Regions from separate parts of the Homo sapiens genome. Here region 1 is linked to region 2. Evidence: fine-mapped expression QTL. Tissue or cell type: whole blood. Region 2 holds a variant in brackets; the other region holds the start of a gene. All regions are shown on one strand. Distances are from middle to middle.

What was found. PIP is the estimated chance that this variant, and not a neighbour inherited with it, causes the effect.
Region 1: it holds the start of SBF2, and the variant in region 2 is fine-mapped to the expression of SBF2 in whole blood (INTERVAL, PIP 0.95).

The regions. Positions count from the first base shown.
Region 1 is chr11:10,291,445-10,296,591 of GRCh38, reverse strand. SBF2 (SET binding factor 2) reads left to right here and starts at 2,373. Exons shown (of 40, transcript NM_030962.4): 1 at 2,373-2,577. The coding sequence starts at 2,523. RefSeq lists silencers at 2,236-2,285, 2,406-2,685, 2,716-2,795, 2,836-2,975.
Region 2 is chr11:9,875,711-9,880,857 of GRCh38, reverse strand. The region is part of intron 17 of SBF2 (SET binding factor 2); the gene reads left to right. The region is part of intron 1 of LOC101928008 (a long non-coding RNA gene); the gene reads right to left. Among named protein-coding and RNA genes, the nearest start is that of LINC02709, 120 kb to the right of the region's middle. The variant G/A (reference allele first, on the strand shown) is at 3,069.

The DNA.
Region 1 (5,147 bases), 420 kb before region 2:
GTTTGGCTGTGTCCTCACCCAAATTTCATCTTGAATTGTACCCCATAATTCCCACCTGTCATGGGAGGGATCCGGTGGAAGGTAATTGAATCATGGGGGCGGGTCTTTCTCCTGCTGTTGTGGTGATAGTGAATAAGTTTTATGAGATTTGATGGTATAAAGGAGAGTTCTGCATAAGCTCTCTTGTCTGCCGCTTTGCTCTCCTTGCCTTCCGCCATGTGGAACTGTGAGTCAATTAAACCTCTTCTCTTTATAAATTACCTAGTCTCGGGTATGTCTTTATTAGCACCGTGAGAACAGTCTAACACAATATACAATGGAATATTATTGAGTCATAAAAAATAATGAAGTATTGATACTTCAATGTGATGCTACAACCTTGTACTGTATCTGCCCGTAAACAAGCTGAGAACAATATACTAAGTGAGAAAAACCAAGACACAAAAAACCCACATATTGTATGATATGAATATGAAATATTCATAATAGGTAAATCCATAGAGACAGAAAGCAAAATGGTGATTGCCAGGGGCTGTGGGAGGGGAGAATGAGAATGACTGCTTAATGGTTGTGAGGTTTTCTTTTGGGTGATGAAAATGTTTTGTAACTAGATAGACATGGTAGTTGTACAGCATTGGGAATGTACTTAATTGCCACTGAATTCTACATTTTCAAGTGGCTAATTTTACAATATGTGAATTTTGCCCTATTTTTAGAAAAGTTGGGAAGGAATATGATAGCTGCCTTAAAAATCTATCATATGAAGATAGATTTTTTTTTTCTGGATAGTTCCGGAGAGCAGAATCAGGGGAAGTTACAGTAAGACAACTCTGAAATAATAAGGAAGAACTTTCTAACAATAGGGCTGTTAAACAGTGGAATGCGCTGCCTCCCAAGGAAGTAAGATTACTTTTTACTGAAAGTGATCAAGTTGGATGATGAGCTCTCAGGGAAGTTACAGAGAGGATTGCTGCACGGGGTATGACTGAGGTTTTTTTTTTTTTGGTTTAATTATTTTCAGGATCAAACTATCTTCCCTCCACGTTTGCAAATTCAGCTGATTCAGTTTTACCATTAGCAACTGACATAGAGGTCCTGGAGTTAAAGTATTCCTTCAGTTTCAGTTCTAGTGCAGCCCAACCCTCCCAATTTGTAGATGAAACAAGTGTGGCAGAGAAAGGGGAAATAGTAAATTACAGCAGAGTAAATCTTCAGGAGCTGAGATGTCAACTCTCTCAGTTCAGAGTTGGAGCCATTGCGGCTTCCTGCTGGTCGTTGGGGAAAATCGCACATTTACTCATTTAAAATATTTTGTAGGCACCTACTATATACTAGACGCTTTGCTAAGAGGCCTTGTCTTATGTGTAAATATGAAGGATCAAACCCTCAATTAATAGTGAGCAGTGATAAGCAACCACAAAGACAACTTCTAAACCACGGAGATTTCCAAAACTTTGGTCTACCACTTGTACAAATTCTACTAAAACTTCGTGAGATATTAACAAATGACAAAGTGAGTTCACCTGAATGTCACACCAGCCAAATTCGAAATGGTCAATAGGAGGTTCAACAAAAAAGCAAGCGACTTTGATAATCCCGAGACGGAAGGACGGGACCATCTATTCATTTTTGTGCATGTTTGAGCAGGGAAGTTGGAAGTCCACCTGCTCGGGCTGCGAGAGCCCTGGGACCGCTGCGAGGGAAGCAAGCCGAGGCGTGCGGGGCTCCCCAGGGAGAGGCCAGCCCAGTTCGGGAGGATCCCGGGGATGCCGCGTTCCTCGGTGGAATCTGGCTCTCCCGGGCGCTCCGGGGGAAGCCCAGGCCGACCGCCCCCGGCCCACCCGGCATTGAAACCCGAGGCTCCTTGGAGGATTGCGTAAAAGCCTCTCCCTCCCCCGTCTGCTCGGTGGCATGTTTCTAAAATTCCCATCTACACAACATAAACAGGAAACGTGCAGCAAAAGCCCTGTCGATGCAAATTCCTTGCTTCCAACCGAGGGCGGGAGAATTTCATCTTTGGTGGTGGTGGGGAGCAGAGGAAGCAGCCAGCTTTCCAAGTGACCCCTCAACTCTCCACATCCCTTCTTCCAAATCCAAACAGAATAGAGAAGGCGGAAGGAAGGACCCCCTGCTTTAGGAAAAATAGGGAGGCAGAGGGGGCCGTGAAGCAGCATCCAGGCCTCAAAGTGAACCACCTCCAGGGGCCGCGGTGGCGGCGCGTGGCGGGAACACGCCCGACCGCCCACTCCCCCAGCGCAGCAGTCCGCGAGGCCCGCGGAGGGTGGAGGTGGGCTCGCCGCCCGGGCTTGGGGCAGCCGAGCCAGCGCGGGTGGGGGCGGGGGAGGAGCGGGCACTAGGCGCCGCGCAAGCGCAGAGCGCGCCTCGGTTGTCAAACATGGCTGAAGCGCTGCCGCTGCCGCTACTGCCGCTGCAGGGAAAATGCTGAGCCCTCCCGGGCCGGGTGGGCGGCGGCGGCGAGGGCGGCGACGGGGACCCGCTTCCCGAGCGCGGCGGCGGCGGCCATGGCCCGGCTGGCTGACTACTTCATCGTGGTAGGCTATGACCACGAGAAGCCAGGTAAGGGTGTGGGGCGGCACCGCCCCCGGGCCTCCCCGCCCCCCGGCCGCTGTCCAGTGGGCTCCGCGGGGCCGGGCGTCGGGGACGGGCGTCGGGGAGGGCCAGGCCGAGTCTCGGAGGAGCGGGCGGTCGGCGTCCGGCCTTCTCGGCTGGGCTGAGCCTGGCGGTGGGCGTGGGGGGGCCGGCACGACGGTAGGGGGAGGGAAGACGCCGCGTCTGCCCAGCCCCTGGGCGCACCCGCTGGGCGGGCCGGAGGCGAGTTGGGGTCTCGCGACCCTCCCGCTGGAGGCTGCAGGGTACCCGGGGCAGAGAGAGCCCTGAGATTGGGCCCAGGACCGCAAGGCTGGGAGGGCGGGAGCCAACTGTGCTAAGTTCCTCGGGGATAAACTTCTGCCCTGCATCCTGAGTGAGTAACCAGTGACGCAGGGGGTTGTCCTCTCCGAAAGGAAGTGCTGAGAGTCCAGTGCTAACTCACCCCTGTGCTGTTGGGGGCCTAGTGACCTCCCCAAGGAACGCGTGGTACCAGGGAAGGGGACAGGATTCTTTGCACTTTTACCCCTTTCTAGGAAATGCTCCCTATTCTTTCAGGACAAATGTGACGGTCACTTCACAGTGACATGACTTGTCTTTTAACTAAGGACAGCCAGCTGACCGCTGAAGGTGATCTTGTTTCACTTTAATGTGTTTTCATTGTTCTTTTTATTTGTCACAGAATTTTCGTCGTAAGGAACAATTGGGCAAATGCATTGTATTTTACACTTTAATTGACGGACTTCCACAACTTAAGAGAATTCAGGGTTCATGCACGTTTATTTCTGTATTTGTATTCTCTTGTATTACTATGTAGCTAAGCATAATGTAATAACAAATTGAGCTGGGAAACCACTTCTATTTTAGGGCAATTCTAGTCCCACATTTGCAAGGAATTTGAGATATCAGCTCTACAGCCCCTTCATTTTTCAGAGATGCTGAGATTGTGTTTTCCTGATGGTTACAGCCATTGGTAGCTCAGAATACCATTGTTCTACCCACTCTTGGTCCACTCTCTCTTTCATTATTCCTCTCCTAAGAACTTCCTCTCCTTTAGTGGGAACCTTTCATGTTCTTTTCTCTTTCACCAGTCATGACCTGATTGAGGTCAATTGTTAAAGAGAAAGTTTAAATGTTTAAACTTCTGGATCCAAAATTTTATTTCCTAGTAATTTGGCATAGTCTGATGTTTCTTTTCTATCAAGATTAAGTGTGGGAAATCAGTTTTTTAACCTTTAGTTTTTAGTGACATTGTTCCGCCTCCCCCCCTCCCCACTTTTAAACAATTTTTTTTTTTTTTTTTTTTGAGACGGAGTTTTGCTCTGTTGCCCACGCTGGAGTGCAGTGGTGCGATCTTGGCTCACTGCAACCTCTGTCTCCCGGGTTGAAGCAATTCTCTGCCTCAGCCTCCGGAGTAGCTGGGATTTACAGGCGCCCGCCAACACGCCCGCTAATTTTTGTATTTGTAGTAGAGACGGGATTTCACCATCCTGGCCAGGCTGGTCTTGAACTCCTGATCTCGTGATCCACCGGCCTCGGCCTCCCAAAGTGCTGGGATTACAGGCTTGAGCCACCACGCCCGGCCAACAATGTTGAAACAATAACAGACTTGCAAAAAAGTTGCAAGAATGGTACAAAAAATTCTACCCGCCCCCCAACAATTTGAGAGGAAGCTGTTGACCTGATGCCCTGTCATCCCAGAATACTTTAATGTGCATTTTCTGCAAACAAGAATGTTCTCCTACATGATCACAGTGTAATAACCAAAACAGGAAATGGATAGTGATACAGTACTCCATCTAGTTCTCAGACTGGTTCAAGTTTTGTTGATTGTGCTAGTAATCTCTTTACTGGCAAAAGGATCCAGTTTAGCAATATGTGTTGCATTCATGTTATGTCTCTTTTGTCTCCCTCAATCTGGAACATTTCCTTTATCTTCTCCTGACTTTCATGACCTTAACATATTTAACAATTACAGGTCAGTCACTTTGTAGGCTGCCCCCTCAATTTGGGATTGTCTGTTCCTTCATGATTAGATACATACGAATATGCACGTGGGAAGGATATCACAGAAGTGATGCTCACTGCATCCTGTCAGGTGGTGCACAATTTCACTTTGTTTCATTGTTGGTTATTTTTACTTTGATTACTTGATATAAGTAATATCTGCGAGGCTTCTCCACTGTAAAGTTAATACTTAATTGTTTTTGCCATGTACTTTGAAACTATGTAAATATCTTGTTCCTCACTAAACTCTTAATCATTTATTGACATCTACATGGAGTCTGTGTGTGTGTGTGTGTGTGTGTGTGTGTGTGTGTGTGTGTTTAGTGGATTATATTCTGTTACTATTTGCCTTAGTCTATTCGGAAAAAGTCACTAGCCCACCTGCCCGAAGCACTGGCTTGAGTGGGAAATAGGAGAGTCTAAGCACATCCAGCCGAAGTGAGACCAGAAAGGGGAGCTCGCGGATTATATTCTGTTACTATTTGCCTTAGTCCATTCGGGCTGTTATAACAAAAATACCTCAAACTGGGTGG
Region 2 (5,147 bases):
TGTAGCAGGCTACTAGACACCCCCTTCTAGGATAGCTGCAATCCATGCAGTCATTAGACAAGGAAAATATGACAGGAAAAGTAATTTGAAATCAAATCACAGAATGTCTAGAATGTCATGTTAAGGAGTTTAGACTAATATTATTCTCTGGTCACTAAGGAGTACGTAATACCATACTCTTGAGTAGGGCAGTGACGTGATTGTTTCAGAAACAAACTAGAGCAGTGTAGAAGATAGGAAGATGAGGGGTTAGAGCAACAGAGGCCACTTAGTAGGCTAGTATAATAGACAAGCACTGATGAGGGTACTTAGAGATCCACATAGAGGTAGCAGAAGTTACAAACCAAATCTACAGGGGCCAAACAAATAACGCAAATGAGTTAGCAGGCCACATGAAGAGCACATGTCCCATCTAAGGGGCAGCCTCTGCTTAGCTTCAGCAGTTGTTGCCATACAGGGATGTAGGAACATTGCTACCACATCTTTAGGCTTTTCAAAAGAAGCGCGAAATTTAGATTGTATGTAAAACCTCTTCAGTTTAAAATGTTGGCTTCATTTTTCAAAAATCCTAGACAGCCAAAACAAAACACATACTCAGCCAGATATAGTTAATAACATGCAAGCTTCACAACCTCCAGCTTTTAGCTTCTGATTGTGAATTGTTGTTGTGTGGTATAGTAAGGAAAAGGCCTGAACTCTGGGGCCACAGAAAGATCTGGATTTGAATCTTGGCTCATCCTGAGATCTTTTTTTTTTTTTTTTTTTTTTTTTTTATGAGACAGAGTCTCACTCATTGTCCAGGCTGGAGTGCAGTGGCACGATCTCATCTCACTGCAACCTCCACATCCCAGGTTCAAGCAATTCTCCTGCCTCAGCCTCCCGAGTAGCTGGGAATACCGGTGTGCACCACCACACCCAGCTAATTTTTGTATTTTTAGTGAAGACGGAGTTTTGCCACATTGGCCAGGGCAGTCTTGAACTCCTGACCTCAAGTGATCCGCCCATCTTGGCCTCCCAAAGTGCTGGGATTACAGACACTAACCACCAAGCCTGGCCTCATCCTGAGATCTGAAACAAATGTTTAACTGTCTGAACTTTTATTCTTCTACTCTAAAATGGTGATAACTAAAGATGAAATTATTCATGTAAAGCACCTAACCTAGTGCCTGGCATATAGTACGTGCACAGCGAATATTTGTTGAATGAAAGACAGGACATGAATTCAACTATAAATTGAATGTCTGCTTCACCAGTCACTGGATATACATTGACAAATAAAACAGACACAGTCCCTATGCTCACCAAGCTTAGCCCAGGTCCTCCAGCTGGCAAATGGCAAAACCGATGATGATGCATGTCAGCATCCTCCACTTTTGGGGTTGGAAGTCACAGGGCATACTTGATTATGTTGGTTTTTAGTGGACTCTAATATTTTCATTTAGGGCAAGGACTTTGTAGCCTGAAGATAGGAATTAGAATACTTTTGATAAGATACAGCCTAATAACATAATTGAGAAAAGAATGGAAAATGCAAAACTCATGACTCGTGAATAACAAAAGCAAAGATTTTAATAACTATGTGTCCCTAAAAAGAACTTTATGAATAGATTATTATTCTAGTTTAATTTTGCTTAGGTGGCACTGTTTCCTTTGTATTAGCCAGCATTGTTAGCATTTTTGAGAAGTCATAGATTTGATGGGGATTTGTGGAGGAGCTGCTAAATTACAGAAGAAATTATTATGGCAGAAAATCAATTATGTGGTGCTATAAATACTTGATTCAGTAACTCAGCAAATTCCCTTTATGTCCAAAGTGCAAACATTTTGTACCTAAGTCAAAAGGTCTGTTTTTAATTTCTGCAGCTTTGCAGTTGTTCCTCTTTGTCACTGATAGATTTTTACATGATAAGAGAGACGTAAAGATAAAGAGGGGTCACTTTCAGAGGGAGTTTTAAGTGTTGGGGAGATGAAAGCATGAGCTTAACCCTCGGTCATAGGCATGTTTCAGTACTGATAGCAGGAGATTACCTGGAAGAAGTCAGAGAGCCATCTTGAATGACTGTGGAGTTAGCTGGTTTTATTATACTCTTGGGTGACATTTCCAGCTAATAAAATTAGAATTAAAATTATAATCTTAGAAGCAAGCCTCTGGGAAATATGTAATTAACCTTTTGGAATTTAACAAGCATTGTGTGTACCTCCAGTACCTATATTTAAGATGCTTTAACCTAGCATTTGAATTGATGCCAAGATGTGCAAGACATGGTCTCTGCCCTCAAAGGCTATTAAGAGACAGACTATATGTACACAGATTTTTTTAAATTATTTAGGTTTAATTCATAAAAACCCTAGAAGAAAACCTAGGCAATACCATTCAGGCCATTGGCATGGGCAAGGACTTCATGACTAAAACACCAAAAGCAATGGCAACAAAAGCCAAAATAGACAAATGGGATCTAATTAAACTAAAGAGGTTCTGCACGGCAGAAGAAACTACCATCAGAGTGAACAGGCAACCTACGGAATGGGAGGAAATTTTTGCAATCTGCTCATCTGACAAAGGACTAATATCCAGAATCCACAAAGAACTTAAAGAAATTTACGAGAAAAAAACAACCCCATCAAAAAGTGGGCAAAGGATATGAACAGACACTTCTCAAAAGAAGACATTTATGCAGCCAACAGACACATGAAAAAATGCTCATCATCATTGGTCATCAGAGAAATGCAAATCAAAACCACAATGAGATACCATCTCATGCCAGTTAGAATGGCGGTCATTAAAAAGTCAGGAAACAACAGATGCTGGAGCGGATGTGGAGAAATAGGAATGCTTTTACACTGTTGGTGGGAGTGTAAATGAGTTCAACCATTGTGGAAGACAGTGTGGTGATTCCTTAGGGATCTAGAACTAGAAATACCATTTGACCCAGTGATCCCATTACTGGGTATATACCCAAAGGATTATAAATCATGCTGCTATAAAGACACATGCACACGTAAATTTATTGTGGCACTATACACAATAGCAAAGACTTGAAACCAACCCAAATGTCCATCAATGATAG[G/A]TTGGATTAAGAAAATGTGGCACATAAACACCATGGAATACTGTGCAGCCATAAAAAAGGATGCGTTCATGTCATTTGCAGGGACATGGATGAAGCTGGAAACCATCATTCTCAGCAAACTATCGCAAGAGCAGAAAACCAAACACCGCATGTTCTCACTCATAGGTGAGGATTGAACAGTGAAAACACTTGGACACAGGGCAGGGAACGTCACACACTGGGGCCTGTCGGGGGGTTGGGGATTGGGGTAGGGATAGCATTAGGAGAAATACCTGATGTAAATGACGAGTTGATGGGTGCAGCAAACCAACATGGCACATGTATACCTGGGTAACAAACCTGCACATTGTGCACATGTACCCTAGAACTTAAAGTATAATTTTAAAAAATTATTTAGGTTTAATTAATGATTTCATGTTTAGTTTTTAAAACCTAATTGTTGGCATTTTAAAAATATTATCTCTTAATGAGCATACAAAAATAGGAACAACACAGGAACTTACTTCATATAATACATTTCCTTATAAAACGGTAGAGTATTATTTATTTTTTAAAAACTCTACCTTGATCATCATTGTTGTCATAGAAATACTAATACTTTGTATTGTTATTATGGCTGCTATTTTATCTTGTATCAAGCCTAAGGAAGGTTGTAGCATAGCATTTCAGCACATTCTAGAGCAAAAAACTGTCCTAAATGTAATACAAAATAGAATGAAATAATTGTTAAAGAAGTATAAACAAAGTTCTAGGCCAGGCATAGTGGCTCACGCCTGTAATCCCAACACTTTGGGAGGCCGAGGTGGGTGGATTGCTCGAGGTCAGGAGTTTGAGAGCAGCCTGGCCAACATGGTGAAACCCTGTCTTTACTAAAAATACAAAATTTAGCTGGGGATGGTGGTGGGCGCCTGTAATCCCAGCTACTCAGGAGGCTGAGGCAGGAGAATTGTTGAACCAAGGAGGCAGAGGTTGCAGTGAGCCGAGATTGCCCCACTGCACTCTAGCCTGGGTAACAGAGCAAGACTCCATCTCAAAACAACAACAACAAAGTTCTACTTAAGATAGTGTCATAGTCTGCTTAGGCTGCCATATCGAAATACCACAGAGTGGATATTTTAACAACAGAAATTTATTTTCTCAAGATCAAAGTTCCAGCCAATTCACTTTCTGGGAACGGCTTTCTTTCTGGGTTGCAGATGGCTGCCTTATCACTATGTCACGTGGCCTTTCTTCAGAACGTGGGGCAGTGGGGAGAGAGGGAGAGAGAGAGCAAGAGCAAGAACAAGCTCTCTATCTCAGGATACTAATCCTGTTGGATCAGGGCCTCACCCTTATGACCTCATATAACCTTAATTACTTCCTTACTACAAATATGGGCACGCTGGATGGAGATAGGGTTTCAACATATGAATTTAAGGGGGACACAAACATTCAGTTTATAACACATAGTAAATAAAGAGAGAGCAAACAGGGAGGGCATTTTGAAAGAGGTATCATCTGAATAGGCCCTTGGAGAATGGATTTTAACCACTAGAGATTGGAAGGAGGGATTCCAAGTAGATGAAACAGCTTGACCAATGTCATGGCAGGGAGAAAGCAAAGAGTATGTTTAGTACACAGAGCATTCAACTCGTTCAACTGTGGGATACACCTACAGGAGTGAATAGTATTCAGGAAGTTGAGAAAGGGAGGATGTGACCAGATCGTTTAATACCTTATAAAACATCTGATGCTGGCTTCAGCACTGCTCCGTCTAGCTGTATGACCTTTGTTATGTTTCTTTTCTTCCGTTTATCTTGGCGTTCCCATGTATTAGTGAAAAAAAAAAAATCTCTGAGGTTTATTCTAACTCAGTGAGTTTACACTTAATAACAAGTTAAGTGATTTAAGTTTAACGAGTGTTATGTGTTTGTGTGTGCCTGCATACTTTCACATTTGTGTCTCACACCAGCAGATGTGCAGCTTCTGCAAATTTTTGATAATAGGCAGAAAAATCTATTTTGGCTTCCTAAGTTGAATTTCAATTTCTCCTACCCCTCCATGAATTGGGAAGCTTATTCAGCATATTCCAAGCACCCA